3 separate regions of the Homo sapiens genome follow, and regions 2 and 3 are each reported to be linked to region 1. The links are microRNA targets in miRTarBase. Many come from high-throughput screens and were not tested one by one. Region 1 holds a microRNA gene; each other region holds the end of a gene's coding sequence.

What was found. The annotated mature microRNA hsa-let-7e-5p reads UGAGGUAGGAGGUUGUAUAGUU and lies in region 1 at 2,952-2,973, shown strand. An mRNA with a match to its seed (bases 2 to 7 or 8) in the 3' UTR can be bound and repressed. Matches are read on the target gene's strand: a 7mer-m8 pairs with bases 2 to 8, a 7mer-A1 pairs with bases 2 to 7 and ends in A, and an 8mer does both.
Region 2: miRTarBase lists PAX3 as a target of hsa-let-7e-5p. Seed matches in the 3' UTR shown: 7mer-A1 at 3,680-3,686.
Region 3: the mRNA of NAT8L is a reported target of hsa-let-7e-5p. Seed matches in the 3' UTR shown: 7mer-m8 at 3,285-3,291.

The regions. Positions count from the first base shown.
Region 1 is chr19:51,689,842-51,695,013 of GRCh38, forward strand. MIRLET7E (microRNA let-7e) reads left to right here and starts at 2,945; the gene lies at 2,945-3,023. SPACA6 (sperm acrosome associated 6) reads left to right here and starts at 3,489. Exons shown (of 9, transcript NM_001316972.2): 1 at 3,489-3,899; 2 at 4,637-4,714. The coding sequence starts at 3,686. It overlaps SPACA6-AS1 (SPACA6 antisense RNA 1), which reads right to left and starts at 3,615. Exons shown (of 2, transcript NR_108100.1): 1 at 2,793-3,615. It overlaps MIR99B (microRNA 99b), which reads left to right and starts at 2,771; the gene lies at 2,771-2,840. It also overlaps MIR125A. RefSeq lists enhancers at 147-954, 491-590, 955-1,764.
Region 2 is chr2:222,196,877-222,201,876 of GRCh38, forward strand. It overlaps PAX3 (paired box 3), which reads right to left. Exons shown (of 9, transcript NM_181458.4): 9 at 3,011-4,566. The coding sequence ends at 4,532. Among named protein-coding and RNA genes, the nearest start is that of CCDC140, 99 kb to the right of the region's middle.
Region 3 is chr4:2,063,379-2,068,378 of GRCh38, forward strand. NAT8L (N-acetyltransferase 8 like) reads left to right here. Exons shown (of 3, transcript NM_178557.4): 3 at 382-5,000. The coding sequence ends at 749. Among named protein-coding and RNA genes, the nearest start is that of NAT8L, 6.6 kb to the left of the region's middle. RefSeq lists an enhancer at 3,154-3,767.

The DNA.
Region 1 (5,172 bases):
GATCGTGGCTGGAAGAGACTAGGGGCGAGCTGCCCGAGCCCTCGGGGGAGGTGGAGGAAGACTGGCTTTGGAGTGCCTGCGGCAGCGGAAGGGTTAACGTCTGGCTGGAGGGGAGGGGGAGGCGCAGGGATGGGGCTGCGGGGCTTTGAGGGGTCAAGGGTGAGCCGTGCCAGTGGGAGGGGGCCGAGGAGGAGGGGGAGGTTGTCTGGGCTGCCAGACAGGCCAGGGTCAGCGGCGGGGGCAGGAGATGTCTGGAGGAGGAGAGGCCCAGCATCCATGCTCCCTCGGGGACCCGGGATTCCAGGTCCCAGACCCCTCCTCCCTCAGATCTGGGAGTACACCACCCAGTCCCCCACCCATTCCAGAATCCGAGCCCCCAGCCCCCTTTTTTCCAGGATCCAGGAGTCTGAGCCCCCAGTCTGTTCTCTCAGACCAGGGAATCCACACTCCAGCCCCTAACTCCTTCAAAACCCCAGAGTTCAGAACCTCAGCCCCTCTTCCCAAGGAGCGCGGCCCCCAACCCTCTGTTCCTCTAGAACCCAAGCGTTCAGGCTCCGGCATCTTTCTCCCTTTGAAGCCTGCAGTTCTGGGGATCCCCAGGCCCCTCCTCCTCCGGAACCCAGGAGTCCCCACCTCCTCTTTAGCCCCAGCTGGAGTCCAGCCCTCCAGGGGTTAAGGGGGCGGGACCAGCTAGTTGCCATGGTGCCAGACTGTTTGGGTCTGCTCTCTGACCCTTGGGGGCTCCCCAGGGTCCGCAGAGAGGGGGAGGGGGACCTAGGCCTGGGGGAAGTCCAGAGCCTACCCCTTCCCCAAAGCGGGGCTATGGGCCCAGGGAGTTCGCGTTTCCACCAACGCCTTGTCCAGTGACCTTGAACAAGTCCTGACCCTTCTCTCTCCGCCTCAGTTTCCCCAAGGAGACACTGGTTGGCGGGTGGGGGAGATGCTTAGGTCCGGGGAATCTCTGAGATTCTCGGCTTCCCCTCTCCCCTCACCCTCCTCCTCAGGCCCCAGGCAGCCCCGGGGCATGCTGGGAACCCAGGCCTGGGCTCCGGGCCAGGTTGGTGTGGGGGGGTGGGGGCGGGGGCAGCCTCCTCCCTTCCCCTTCCTCCCCACCTTGGCCTGACTCTCGCCCCCGCCTGAGGGTCTGGGAGGTTGGGAAGGAGGGAAGGGGGAAGAGAGCTGGCCGTAGACCCGTCTCCGGCCCCCGCCTCCCCCTTTCCTCCTCCGCCCCTTTCCCGCCTCTCCTCCCCCTCCTCAGGTCGCTACCCCAGCCCTGGGCCCCTTCTCAAACCACCCCCACCCCACCCCCAGCTCCAGACCTGGCTCGAGCTGCGAGGGGGAGGGAGAGAGGGAAGGAGAAAAGAGAGAGAGAGAAGGGAGGGAGACCCAAAGAGAGAAGGGGGAGGGGAGGAAAGAGAGAGACCTAAGAGGGAGGGAAGGAGAGAGAGAGGGAGAGAGACAGAGACTGAGAGAGAGCAGGAGACGGAGGTGAGGGATGGAGAGAGGGAAGGGGCGGAGGGAGAGGAAGTGAGGAAAGACATCCGAAAAAAGGGGGTGGAGAAGGGTGAGAAAGAGGAGAGAGACTGAGAGAGGGCCAGAGAGAGAATGAGAGAGACAAAGAGGGGGAAGGGGGAGAAGGGGAGGATGAAAGACAGAAGGTAGAGGAAAAGCAGGAGAAAGAGGGGGAGAGAAGGAAGAAAACAGAAGCGGGGAGAGGAGAGAGGCGATGGGCAGAGAGAGAAGCCAGCGCAGAGCCAGGGAGGGATGTCCTGATGCAGGAGGAGGCTGGGAACCAGGGAAGGTGGAAAGAAAGAGGGAGAGAGAAAAAGGCAGGGCCAGAGAGACCTGGACTGCGAGAAAGGAACCGGAAGGTGCGCCTGGAGCAGGGGCAGCGAGAACCAGACAGTCCAGGAGGAGGGGCTGGGCACGGGAGAGACCCCAGCTGGAGGGGCTCAGAGCCCAGGGGTGGGGAGGGTGGGTGCTGGGTCCCGGGGTCCAGAAGCTGGAGAAGGCTGGGGACACCTCCTGGATTCAAGAGGGAGGACAGAGATGGGGCTGGGCAGACTTTGGGAGCCTCTTCCCCTCTCTGAGGCTCAGCCCCCTCACCTGCCAAATGGGGATGCTGAGGGCACCTCGCTCTCTGGAGTGGGAGGTGTCAGGGAGAGGACTGGTGCTCAGGGCCTGGTATGGGGTCAGCGCTGGGAGATTGTGGCTGTCATAGTTGTAAATGACCCAAAGAAGGGAGGAGAGAGGAAAGAAAGCACCTAGGGAGGCTCTGATGGTTGGCTAGCCCCTGGCCTCCTTAGCCCTGGGCCTGGAGTCTCTGCAGACTGACAGGAGGGTAGGTAGGAAGCAGGTGTGCCCAAAGGGCCAAATTACGAGACAAATGAGGTTCCCTCCCAGCCGGCACCCAGGAAGCCAGGTTTTCTATCAGGCCATGCCTTCCCCAGGAGGCCTGCCTGGCCGGAGGGAGGAGGGGCTGGGGGCAGGGACTCCTGGGTCTCTGGGGAGAAGGAGGCTTTGGATCTGGACTCATGAGTCTGAGGGAGGAAGGGGCTGAGTCCTTGGATTCCAGGAACATTTGGGGAGAAAAGGGCCAGAGGCCTGGATTCCTGGGTCTGTGGTGAGGAAGGGCCTAGACTTCTGGGTTCTTTAGGGAGGAGGGGGATGAGAGCCTTGACTCCAGGGTCCCTGATGAGGAAGGGGCTGAGGGCCTGGACTCCTGGGTTCCTTGGGGAGGAGGGGCCGGGGGCCCGGACTCCTGGGTCCTGGCACCCACCCGTAGAACCGACCTTGCGGGGCCTTCGCCGCACACAAGCTCGTGTCTGTGGGTCCGTGTCGGGGGCTCACCATCGCGGCTGGGGCCTCCCCGGCCCTCCCCCTCATCCCTGGTCCTCCTGGTCCCTGTCTGTCTGTCTGTCGGGTCTGTCCACCTGCCGCGCCCCCCGGGCTGAGGTAGGAGGTTGTATAGTTGAGGAGGACACCCAAGGAGATCACTATACGGCCTCCTAGCTTTCCCCAGGCTGCGCCCTGCACGGGACGGGGCCCGGCGGGGACCCCCAGCCCCACTCAGGGACCCTTAGCCCCACTGGGCTGCCCCAGGGACCCTGGGAGGAAGAGCCGGGCTCTTTTCTGTCCTTGTCCCTGCATCCCCTCCTTCCCCTGAAATCTGTTTTCCTTCCCTGTCTGTCTCCATCTCTGCTGTGTCTCTGTGGCTTCTGTGTCTCTTTCACAGTGGATCCTCTGACTCCCTCTTATTCTGGCTTTCTAGGTCTCTGCCCCTCCCGATATCTCTCTGTGTCTCTATTTCTGTCGTTTTTGGTCTTTCTGTCTCTGGCTCTCAGAATGTCTCTGTGCCTATCTCCATCTCTGACCCCCACCCCAGGGTCTACCGGGCCACCGCACACCATGTTGCCAGTCTCTAGGTCCCTGAGACCCTTTAACCTGTGAGGACATCCAGGGTCACAGGTGAGGTTCTTGGGAGCCTGGCGTCTGGCCCAACCACACACCTGGGGAATTGCTGGCCTGACTTCTGACCCCTGACTCCTCATACCCTTCCTCCAGAGCATGACATTTGACCACCAACTGAAACCTGACCTCTGACCCCAGACCACTGGCCCTTCCCCCGCCCTGTGGTGACTTCATAAAGGTTACTAGCTTCTCCCCTGGCCTTGAGACCCACACGATGGCCCTGCTGGCTCTGGCCAGTGCCGTCCCGTCTGCCCTGCTGGCCCTGGCTGTCTTCAGGGTGCCCGCCTGGGCCTGTCTCCTCTGCTTCACAACCTACTCTGAGCGCCTCCGCATCTGCCAGATGTTTGTTGGGATGCGGAGCCCCAAGCTTGAAGAGTGTGAGGAGGCCTTCACGGCCGCCTTCCAGGGCCTCTCTGACACCGAAATCAGTGAGGAGACCATCCACACTTCATCAGTGTCCTGGGGAAGGTGCAGAGGGAGGGCAGGAGAGGCCCAGAGGGTCAGGCTGAGGGACAGACAGAGAGAAACAGTCAGAGGAGAAAGGCTCAAAGACCATGAGAACAACAGAGACTTAGGGACAGAGAGACACAGACAGGGGAAGACAGCAGGGCAAAGACTCAGAGAGGGGAGGATGGAGAGTCAGAGAGGGGAAGATGGAGACTCAGAGAGGGGGAGGATGGAGACTCAGAGAGAGAGGAAGATGGAGACTCGGAAAGATGGAGACTCAGGAGTATGGAGAGTCAGAGAGGGGAGGATGGACACTCGGGAGGATGGAGAGTCAGGAGGATGGAGACTCATAGAAAGGGGAGGATGGAGAGTCAGGAGAGGTTGGAGACTGGAGAGGGAATAGAGACCCAGAGAGGGGAGGATGGAGACTCAGAGGGTGGAAGATGGAGACTCAAAGAGGATGGAAACCCAGAGAGAGGAGGACAGAGATGAGGCAGAGACTAGGGGAAGCAGGATAGCGACTGGTCGGGGGCAGAGACTCAGGGAGGATAGAGACTTGGGAGGGACTCAGGAAGCATAGCGACTGTGGGGCAAAGAGTCAGAGAGGGGAGGATACAGACTTGGGAGGGCAGAGACTCAGAAACAGAATGTTCGCATTAGGGACATGGTGTTGCGGGGAGCTGCCTCCCCCAGCCCCTGCTCCCTCCCTCACCGCCAGACTATGATGAGAGAAGCCACCTGCATGACACCTTCACCCAGATGACCCATGCCCTGCAGGAGCTGGCTGCTGCCCAGGGTGAGTGTGTGGGGATGGGGAGATGGGAGATGTGGACTTGGAGCCCCTAAGAAATGGGTATGTGGGAGGGCCCAGGGCAGAGGAAGGAGGCCCCCAGAGTTGGGCAGTGATCCGGGAGGGGAAAGCTGGGAAGACATTGAGCTCAGCTACTTGTCCAAACGAAGGCTGAAGGCAGCTCTAAGAGCCAGGGGCTGAAGGTGGTGAGGGGGAAGGGACGCTGCAGAAATTGCCTAGAGCTGGAAGTCCAGATGGGGTCGGGTAGGCATAGGTTCTGCCATGGCTGCATGGCTCACACTCTTACTGGCTATGAAGTTCTGGGTGTGTCACTGCCCCTCTCCTGGCCTCAACTTACCCATCTGTAAAGTGGGACAATCTTCTTGCCTCCTAGGATGGCCATGGAGCTCAGTGCAGGGGTTGGGGCTGCCTGATGAGCCTGATCTTAGGGAAGGCATCTTCCT
Region 2 (5,000 bases), not on the chromosome of region 1:
TGTATCCTCTGCTACAGTCAAAATCATCAGAAATATGGCTTTTGAGTGACTTGTTAGGCCAGCTGCCTCTCACTCCTTCCCTAAGACTTCATACCAATCTAACCTGGTGGCAATCTGTGCACCTTTGGTCATGCAAATGTCTCCCTGCTCAGAAGATCATGTAGGGACAGTATAAGAAAATCACTTTTCATCTATTTATTTATTCATTTATTCAACAGGCATGTATTGAGTACCTGTAATGGATCAGACATGGTGCTAGGCACTTGGGACACCATGGTCAGCAATTCCAAAGGGGGATCTATGGAATAAAGAGAACTAACTCATATCACAGCCATCTGGTGAGAAGTCCTATACACAGCTCTGTTTTCTTCCTTTTCTCTCATACGTCATCTACCACTGACTTCCAGCTCCATGAGCACTTTTCTGAGGCTGAGGCTTGCCATGTGGAACTTTTTGCACAAATACTGCCACTCGTCACTTACTGTGCCCACCATGTTTGACACCGGCTTTCCTTATCCATGAATGACTTAACACCAAGACTCATTCACTCAGAATGGTTGAGGCTCAGGTAAATAGATTTCCTTTTTATAGATACTTTGGTTCTGGTCCTGTGTATTAATTTTAACTCTTAATTATGTAGTTTTCAGATAGATTCTTCCATGCCATATTCAGATAAAAGGCATTAATGAATCCATCTCCTTCTCCATTTAAGACTTCCTAAACTTATAGCCATGAGCCAGTGATCTTGTCTCTTACTCTGGTTCTATATGCCAGCACTAATGAAGATCCCTTCTAACCTAGGATGTTTCCCAAGCATCCAAGTGTGTATGAAAACACATTTCCAGACTGGGCTAAATCAAAAGCATAAAACAATATGCTTGTTTCTGTCACAGATGTGAAATGTATGATATCTATTCCTAGAAAAATTGCTGCCAAGGAATGGCTCAGCAGCTGACAATGGTACATCCACAATTTAATAATTTGAGTTTTAATTTTCAGCTCTTACTTTTAATTTTTCAAATGAAATCAAATAACTACATGGGCAAGGGGGAACCCCCCACATACAATCAGGTTCAAGTTCTGTTGAATGTCAAAGGGTCAAAGTTCTTAGGGCTGCTTGTCCCAGCAAATGAGGGTAGGAACTCTGACTGAAAGAAATCAGGTCACATTTCCCCAGAAATTGATTAGATATTTTAAGAGTCTGGAGAAAAAAGATCTACAGGGACTTTCAACATGAGAAGTAACAGCAGAGAAGTAGATTTCAAAGACATGCAGAAATAAGAAAAGGACACAAAGAAGTATATCAAAATAAGATATAAGCCATTCATGACAAGTTCTGATATCAGGAGACAGAAAGGAAAACTGATCATGTAAAATGAGTTTCTCTTGTGTAATCTGAATCCTGGCAGCATTCCTCTCATGTATTGGGAGTGAATGATTTTTTTAAATGCCTGTTTGCAACTTGAGTTTGGCATGAGGATAGACTGATATAATTAAGTGGGTAAAACAAACAGGTTCTGCCACATGGTTGCATAGAAGTCAAAGCCTTCTTTTGCCATTTCTGGCTATATGTAATGTTGGCCCAACTGCTTAACAGCTTTGGCCTCAGTCCATTCATCTATAAGTTTGGGTGAATAACACCCACCTTACGGGACATTGTGAGGATTAAACAAGACAATAAAAGTAAATGTGCTGTAAAGATTAACTTCCTTTCCTCTTAAATTATTTTTGGAAAAATTGTCAGAAGAAGAGCAACACATTTGATCAGAAAGATAAGTGTGTGAGCTAAAAAAAAAAAAATAAAGCATTTTACAACTTTGGAAAATGTTACCCACTGCATTTCAAGTTTTTGATATTGTTAAACTATGAACTCACGTGCATTCAATCAGCTGACCAGTCAACTTTCCTGTGATGTGGAATGTCCCACAGCAACAATCCCCAGTATGGCAGCTTCTGGCCTCGTGTGACTATCGCACACTTGAAATGTGGCTAGTGCAACTTAGGAACTAATTTTGTCATTTTATGTACTTTTGTTTCTTTAAATTTAAATAGGGATACATGGCTAGTAGCTTCTGAATTGGACAGCACCCTTTTAGATCTTCCTGACTGTAAGGTTCTCTCACACCAGTCTTGAGGAAGCAGAAGAGCATGAGTTTAAACACCTTGGGCACTGAGATTGTACTAGGTTCAAATCCTAGCTCTGCCACTGAGTGATTCATGTAAGTTCCTTGAGCCTCAGTTTTCTCATCTGTACAAAAGGAATGGTAGTGACATCACTTGCTGCATGTGACATGTGGAGAGTAATAAATAAGTTAATACAAGTAAGAGCTTCAAAAGGTATTATGATTATTCCTTCTAAAATAACAGTCCTCACACTTTATTGAAACTATGCATTTACTTCTCTGCCTTCTCTACTAGGCTACAAGCACCGCTATAACACAAGTGCCAATCACCATGCCTGGCACATTTGGACTCTCATTAAATACATTCAGGAAGAAGGGAAGGAGGGAGGGAGAGGAGAAAGGATCAGGAGAGGGAGGGAAGGAGAAGGAAGAAAGGAAGAATGAATGAAGTACGCAGTAATACCTTTCATGAAGAATAAAGTAGGCTGCTAAAATAAAATAAATAAAATATGAGAGTTTTAAATAAAAATTTCCGTGGAGATGACTTAGAGATGAAGATGGAACCGGGTACTCCAGGGAAAACATATCTCTAAGTGACAGTAAAGGGACTGGATAACTCTGAGAGAACCAAAGAAAGATGAAGGAAGCTAAACTGAAGGGTTTTTCTAGATGCTACACTGATAAAAACATAAACTTCAATCCTTAAAAGTGTGTTCAACCAAGCTTCTTCAAGAGAATACAACTGTGGGTTGTGTAACCTTATTTGTCGACAGAATACTCTCATAGAAAGGGTCCACCAGAAGTGAAGTTCATGTACATTGGGCTCCCCATTGCCAAGTTTTCATTTATACTACATTCACCAGTTCCCCCAAAAAAGCAGTAGTGGGCAAGTTTTCATAACTGTTTATTCATTATAAATAGTAAATATTTACTGCACTTTTTACATGAAAGACATTTTTACAACACATTGTTGTTGGTTGAGGCTGCAACACAAAGATAGTACTTCTCTTGTTCCATCACCCTCTAAGACCAATGCATGAACTAAATTCGGTACTATGTCTAGTCTCACTAACTCGCTACGTCATAGTTCTTAACTCTAAAAGGAATGTATTTGTGCCTACCTCATTCGTGGTTCCAAGAATAGAAAGAAATAAATAACACTGCCTTCCACCTTCTTGTTCCTCTCAACATCTCAAAAAGCAAATTTATTGACATTCTAAAATGTCACCACACAAACGTATGTAAACCTCAGTTCCTATAATCTTTTAATATTGGATATCATTGTATAATTTAAAAGTACATGAGAGCCATGTGAACACTTCTGTTCTTGCCCTGCCTTTCATAGAAAAGAGAAGAATGTAAACGTAATCAGTTTAAAAGCATAATTATCTGATCTGGTCTCTAATCAAAGGAGCAACCCGGGTGTTGGTTGTCCAGCAAATGGCAAACATCACTGCACTCTATCACTATGAATTATGGGCTGTGAAAATAAAAGCACCTGCAAAAATATACTTCTGATTTTGCTTATATCGCCTTGGGCATTGCCAAAGCATCCATGAGGTACACAGTATTGCACACTGATAAGCAGATATGTGAATGCATGTCACTTTCTCTCCACCGTGCCCTTCCTCCAACCCAGGTGGGCTACCAAATAAATGTGAACTGGAAAAACGTCACACACCTCTCCCCACACAGGAAAGGGAAACAAGTCCTTCTTCCTGGTAGCCCATATCCTGTTAGCAAGACATGTCCGGGCCATTTATTGACAACTAGATTACAAATGAGGATACAGTAACAAATAATTTATTTAGGAGGTCCTTTACAGCTAGTCTAGCTTCCTAAAAATGGTTGCATTTATCTTTATTTCAATTTCCAGTGTGTAAGAGTCAAGGATTCCTCCATTCTTGCTTCATGAAATGAGCAGTTTTAAAGTTGTAGAAGTATCAGCATCGAACATCGACATGTTATACTTTAGGGTATTCTATTATATTTTAGAACAGTCTGCTTGCCCAAACCAGTCTGGGTAAATCTCAATACACACACACACACACACACGCACGCACGCACACAAGCAAATGGAATGTTCTAGCTCCTCGATGATCAGCACTAAAGAATTGGGATGTTTTGATATGTAACCATGTGAAACCATTGCCTTAAAATGTTGCATTTGTCTTTTATTGCTCCAGGTCTTCCTCTTCTCCACTGCTTTTGTCGAACGTGTTCAAAAGGATTTGAAACCAACTATTGGAGGAAGAAAATCAATCACTCTCCTTTGTCTCCTATTGGGACCACTGCCCCACCCCCCCCAACAAAAGGGTAATTTTTTTTTGTTTTCAGAGCAGATTCTTCATATCTAGGCTGCGAAGACCAGAAACAGGGCCAGTTTTAGCTCCAAGTGGACAGTTCACTTACGCGATATCTGGCTTGAGATAATGAAAGGCACCTGTAAGGAAACACACGCAGCTTTTTAGGTCATGCTGGGACAATTCACAGTCAGGGGCAAGATCAGCTACAGGCTGACAATGTCATATTTAATACCGTGCTATCAAAGGCTTGAGACTAATATTTTTATTCCTGAGACAAGTTTGACACAACTTTGTGTCCCTGGGATTATCCCCCATATGATCCTGGAGCTGACCTCATTAAGAACATGTGTTTCTAATGTCAGGGATTATTTCATTTTGGCCAACCCTTGTGTTTTACCTAGTGGCAATCAGGTTTCACGTCTCAACAATTAATAACCGCAAGATGTTGTTGACATCAGTTAAGAAAATAATTACACAAGGAAGCCCCTGCTGGAACAGTCAGCTGGCTTTGCAAAAAAAAAAAAAAATTGATACCGGCATGTGTGGCTTAATCTTGCCTCTAATTCACCTT
Region 3 (5,000 bases), not on the chromosome of region 1:
GACTGGGCAAAGCCTGCCCCAGCTCTTGGTCTCAGAGGAGGGACTCGGGCCTTTGACCACTACTCTGAGCAGCGCAGCCTCCAGGCTTGAGTGGGTCCTGGCTGTTGGCCTGTTGGGTAACAGGTGTTGGGCTGGCTTTCTCTGCTTAAGGAGCTCTGGAGGGGGGCTCTACCTGCTTGTCCTGAATAGTGGCTGCCCCCTCCCTTGGCTCCAGCAGAGCTGGTAGCTAGGCCCCGGGGGCTGCCGGGATTGGGTGTCCCACTGCCCTGGCTTGGTGTCCAGCTGGAGGGGGCAGTGCCAAGGGCCCTGTCTCACCCCAGAGGTGGAGGGGTCTCCCCAGCCTTCCTCACCGGGTGTCCCTGACCGCCCTATCCCCTGCAGGCTCCTGCTTCTGGGTGGCCGTGCTGGATGGCAACGTGGTGGGCATTGTGGCTGCACGGGCCCACGAGGAGGACAACACGGTGGAGCTGCTGCGGATGTCTGTGGACTCACGTTTCCGAGGCAAGGGCATCGCCAAGGCGCTGGGCCGGAAGGTGCTGGAGTTCGCCGTGGTGCACAACTACTCCGCGGTGGTGCTGGGCACGACGGCCGTCAAGGTGGCCGCCCACAAGCTCTACGAGTCGCTGGGCTTCAGACACATGGGCGCCAGTGACCACTACGTGCTGCCGGGCATGACCCTCTCGCTGGCTGAGCGCCTCTTCTTCCAGGTCCGCTACCACCGCTACCGCCTGCAGCTGCGCGAGGAGTGACCGCCGCCGCTCGCCCGCCCGCCCCCCCGGCCGCCCTGTCCGCCTTTGCCCGCCTGCCCGCCGCCCGGCGCGGCCTGCTTTCAGACGCTCAATTGGCGTTTGTGTTGGGTTTCCCCTTTTCAACATCCTGCGGTTGTCTGGCTGGTTCCGGGGGGTGCGGGGCTGTTGTTCTTCGGCGACACTTTGGTGGGGGTGGGTTGTTTGTCGCCATAGCCCCTCGCCCTTCCCCACCTGCCTGGGCGGCTTGCCACCTGAAGAGTGGCATCTTGGACCACCGCGGCTGTCCATGACGCTGCCCTGCCCGCCGCCACTGGGGAAGGCCCAGCCTTGCTCACCAAGCACAGAACCTCTGCAGCAGATCCCGGGGCCAGGCTCCGGCCCCGCCTGCGGCCCCAGCGCCACTGCCTGTGGAGGCCCCAGCTGGCCACGGCGCTGCTTTGCTCCGCGCATGCCGAGGGTGTGGCCCGGCTGAGCATGCCGCATGCACACAGCCCCGCCCTGCCGCCCTGCCCAGACTGGACCCGGAGACCCGGGCTGGTGAGCGCCCCTGTCCCCAGCCCCCAGCTGGCTGTGGGAGGGCCTGCCCCTGCCCCCACCTCCTGGAGGGCCTGGTCTGCCCCGCGCCGCCCGGCTCTGTCCACACCTGCTTTGCTCTGACGCCCTCCATTTCTCTGGCTCCGGCCCCTCCCCTGCCTGGGCTGTGCTGACTGGTGTCATCACCCAGGTGACTCCCATGGCGTCCGTGGCACAGCCAGGGTGGGGGTCCATGGGACCCCTCTCCCCAGTGCCCACTGGATCGTGCTGGCCTCTCCCAGATGTCCCCGGGGACCTCCTGCCTCTGGCTGACGGTCCACCCTGTGAATCTTATCAGCCCAGGCTGCTGCCAACAGCGCCCAGCCCACAGCTTCTCCCAGCCTGAAACCAACACATTTTCTAATAAGTTATTTAGACAGAATAGCACTCTGCATGACTTTAATTCTTGGGACAAAACGGTAGTTTGTACCCTAAGACACAGTTTCTGGCCCAGTGTGATGGGGGTGGGTGGCCGGGTGGGTGGAGCGTTTTGCTGTTGGAAACCTGGAGGGAAACCCTGATTGGATGTCATTTCCTGCCATGGAGCACGCCTCCCAGCCCTGGCCTGCAGTGTGGGCAGGGTGGGGGGCAAGGGAGTCCGCAGCCTCCGGGAGGAGGGGCAGGGCGCTGCCTTGGGCTGGGTGGGAAGAGGGGTGGCCGCCTCGGCTTCCGCTGGCCATGCTCCTGGTCTCTCCTTCCTGAGGTCACAGGCAGGGGCTGCCCTGGACGGGGGGCGGGGGGGGTGGCCTGGAAGGGGAGACAGAGGTGGAGGGTGGCACAGGCTGCACATTCAGCTTAGAAGTGGACCTGGCTTTGGTGGCAGGAGAAGAATAAACACTTGCCCAGACCCCTTTGTGTGGGGGAATTGGGGAGGGGTCGTGGCAGGCAGGGTGGGCCACGGAACTGGGTCCCAGGCATCAAGGCCACGTGCAGGGCCATGGAGGGATGCTTCTCACGAGGCGCTTCAGAAGCGAGCGAAGGGACAGAGAAGCCCTGCGTCCAAGGGCCTTTTGTCCTGTTAGCAATTGAGGTGTGCAGAGCACTGTACAGACCCCACTCCCCTGTACATTCCTCCCTGGAGGTGCCCGGTCCCCGCTTGGGGATGGGAGTTTTGTAGACTGTACAGAAATCGGCACCCTATTTTCTTGCAGCTCAGATTTTGTTAATCTGGAATATACAGACAGACGTAAAGTGTTTTAGCAAAATGGAAACAAACAGTTGTGCCTTTTTCCTCTTTTGGTTTGGTTTGGGTTTGGCCTGGGGCTGGTCCCAGTTGGTGCGGGGCATGCTGGGGGCAGGAGGGGCAGGGCGGGCCAGGTGGAGTCAGGTCTTGGGGGTGTCATGTCGGGGTGCTGCCAGCGTCCCTTGGTCCTGTGCCTTTGGAGCCTCGGGCTCCTGGGGTGCAGGGTGCTTGGGGGTGGCTGTTGGAGCCCACCGACGCCAGGGCAGGGCCTGGAGGCCCAGGGACTGCCAGTGTCTCCTTGATATTGATCCTAGCAGATCCCCCTCCTGGGGGTTCTGAGAGTCCTGGGCAGTGTGGCCTTCTCTCATTCTGGTGGCATCTGCGCCCGTGAGTGACCTCTTCCTTGGCTGCACTGCCCTGTGGGTGGTGAGACGCTTGGCCTTTTTTGTTGCTGCCAGGACTTGGTAGAGATGGCAGGAAGGGTGTGCGGGGTGGTTGTGTGCAGAACCCTGCCGCCCCTGAGGTGAGCAGAGGCACTGGTGTGCCTGCCAGGCTGGGGCGGAGCTGCCCGGAACCCTTGCCAGGCCAATGTGTAGCTTGGTGGCGCCCTTGAAGGCCACTGGGGGGTAGGTGTGTCCTCCCCCGGGGCTGGAGGCCGGGTGCCTGGTGGGTGGGCCTGACCTGGCCCACCTCATCCCTCCAGCCTGGGATCTCACTGCTCTGCACATGTGCACTGACGTGAATTTTATACGTTTGTAGAAACTCTGATGTAACTTCTTCTACCTCTGAAGCGCCCTCCTGGGCCCTGCTGTCACGTGGCTGGTGCGGCTTCCCCGAGTGCTGGCCCCCTGCCCGCTCCCCATGGGCACCCACCACTCAAACTCTGCGTGGTGAGGCCCGGGGAAAGCCAGGCCGGGCCCTAGCACTGCTCAGGGGCCTGGGGCTCCTGGGATTTCTGTGTGTTTGGAAGCCTCTGTTTTTGGAGTGGGGGGCGTGGAAGGCGGGAGGGGCTGACAGTGCCTGGGGCCAGAGCTGGGCGAAGGAGGACATCCTCACTGGACGAGCACTGCAGGCCTGACGAGAGGCTCCGGGCAGCTGAGGGCTGAAGCGCCTCGGGATGCCCCACACTGCCCAGAGCCACGGGTCTTGCTGTGCTGGGGGTGGGGTGGCCCCAGGCAGCTGCCACTGCCCAGGTGTGAGTCGCTGCAGACCTGGTCCCTGAGGGTGGGAGGCCTGCTTGTGCTGAAGCTGCCATGTGGTCTGGCCCCCAGAAGGGCTCCTGAGCGTAGGGAGTTGAGCCCCGCAGCCGTGGCGGCATCTCCTCCTCCTTCCTCCGCCCCATGCCCAGCCTTGCTTCCGGCTGGTGGCATGCCTTGGGGCCGGGCAGCAGGTGAGAAGCTGCCCCCGGAGGGAGGGGCCAAGGGCTGGGTCAGTCTGGCCTGAGGGGTGGATGGCTGGCCCTGGGGGAAGGCTGGGCCTGGGAGGCCCTGTGGACAGCAGGCCTGAGGCCACGAGGTCCTGGGGCCACCCCTCTCCTGCTCTGGGTGTCCTTCTCAGAGAAGATGGCAGAAGGCTGCAGGCCCTAGAGGGGACGACGGGCTGGGGACGCCCTGAGCTTCCTGGCTGTGTGGCAGGTGCTGGGGAAGCTCTCTGGGCCATAGGGACCTGGCTCCCCTCTGAGAGGCCCGCCTGCCCTGGGGCACCCAGGGCTGTGCTGGTGGCCTGAGGCTGGGAACTTGGGTTCCTGGGCTCTGCTGGCGCCTGGGCTTTGTGGGGGCCGAAGGTGGTTGCCCCGCCGGGCAGGGGGCTGTGTGGGCCCTCGTGGGGCCACCTTCCTGTCAGTGCCCGAGGGACGGTGGGACAGTTGCCCCTGCGCCAAGGGAGCCCACTGCCATCCCCCGTGGGCTGGCGCTGCAGTCGCGCACCCTGTGTTGCCTGCTGACTTGCTTATGTCTGTTTGGAAGCTGCTTCTGTTTGGCCACAGGCCTGTGTTCCTGGGCTGATGGCCACAGAGCTGACACTTGGGGTTTGAGTTCCAGACTTGCAGACCCTGGGATCCGCTTACTCCTCCGCGCCACGGCTGCTGTGCTTCCAGAGGTGGCGTGATGCCTCCCGGGGCCATGGTGGGGTGAAGGATGGCGAGCCGGACATACCATTGTTGGATGTATTTTTTTTAAAACAGCAATAATTAGCCATTTTAAAGGAGGGATGTACCTGTGTGTGTGCATGTGCACGTGTTTGAGCGTGTGTGTGTGTGCAAGTGGGTTCTTGGATATGTGTAGTGTGAGCATGTGTGCATGTGTGAGCCTGTGCACGTGCATGTTGTAGGTGCATAAGCATGTACACGCGTGAGCATGCATGTGTGTGTACACGTGTATAGGTGTACATGTGCATGAGTTGTGTACATGCGTGAGCACGTGTATAGATGTACGTGTGTGTGCGCATGTGTGCGTGTACATGTGTTTGTGTCTTGGGTATGCATAAGCATGCACGTG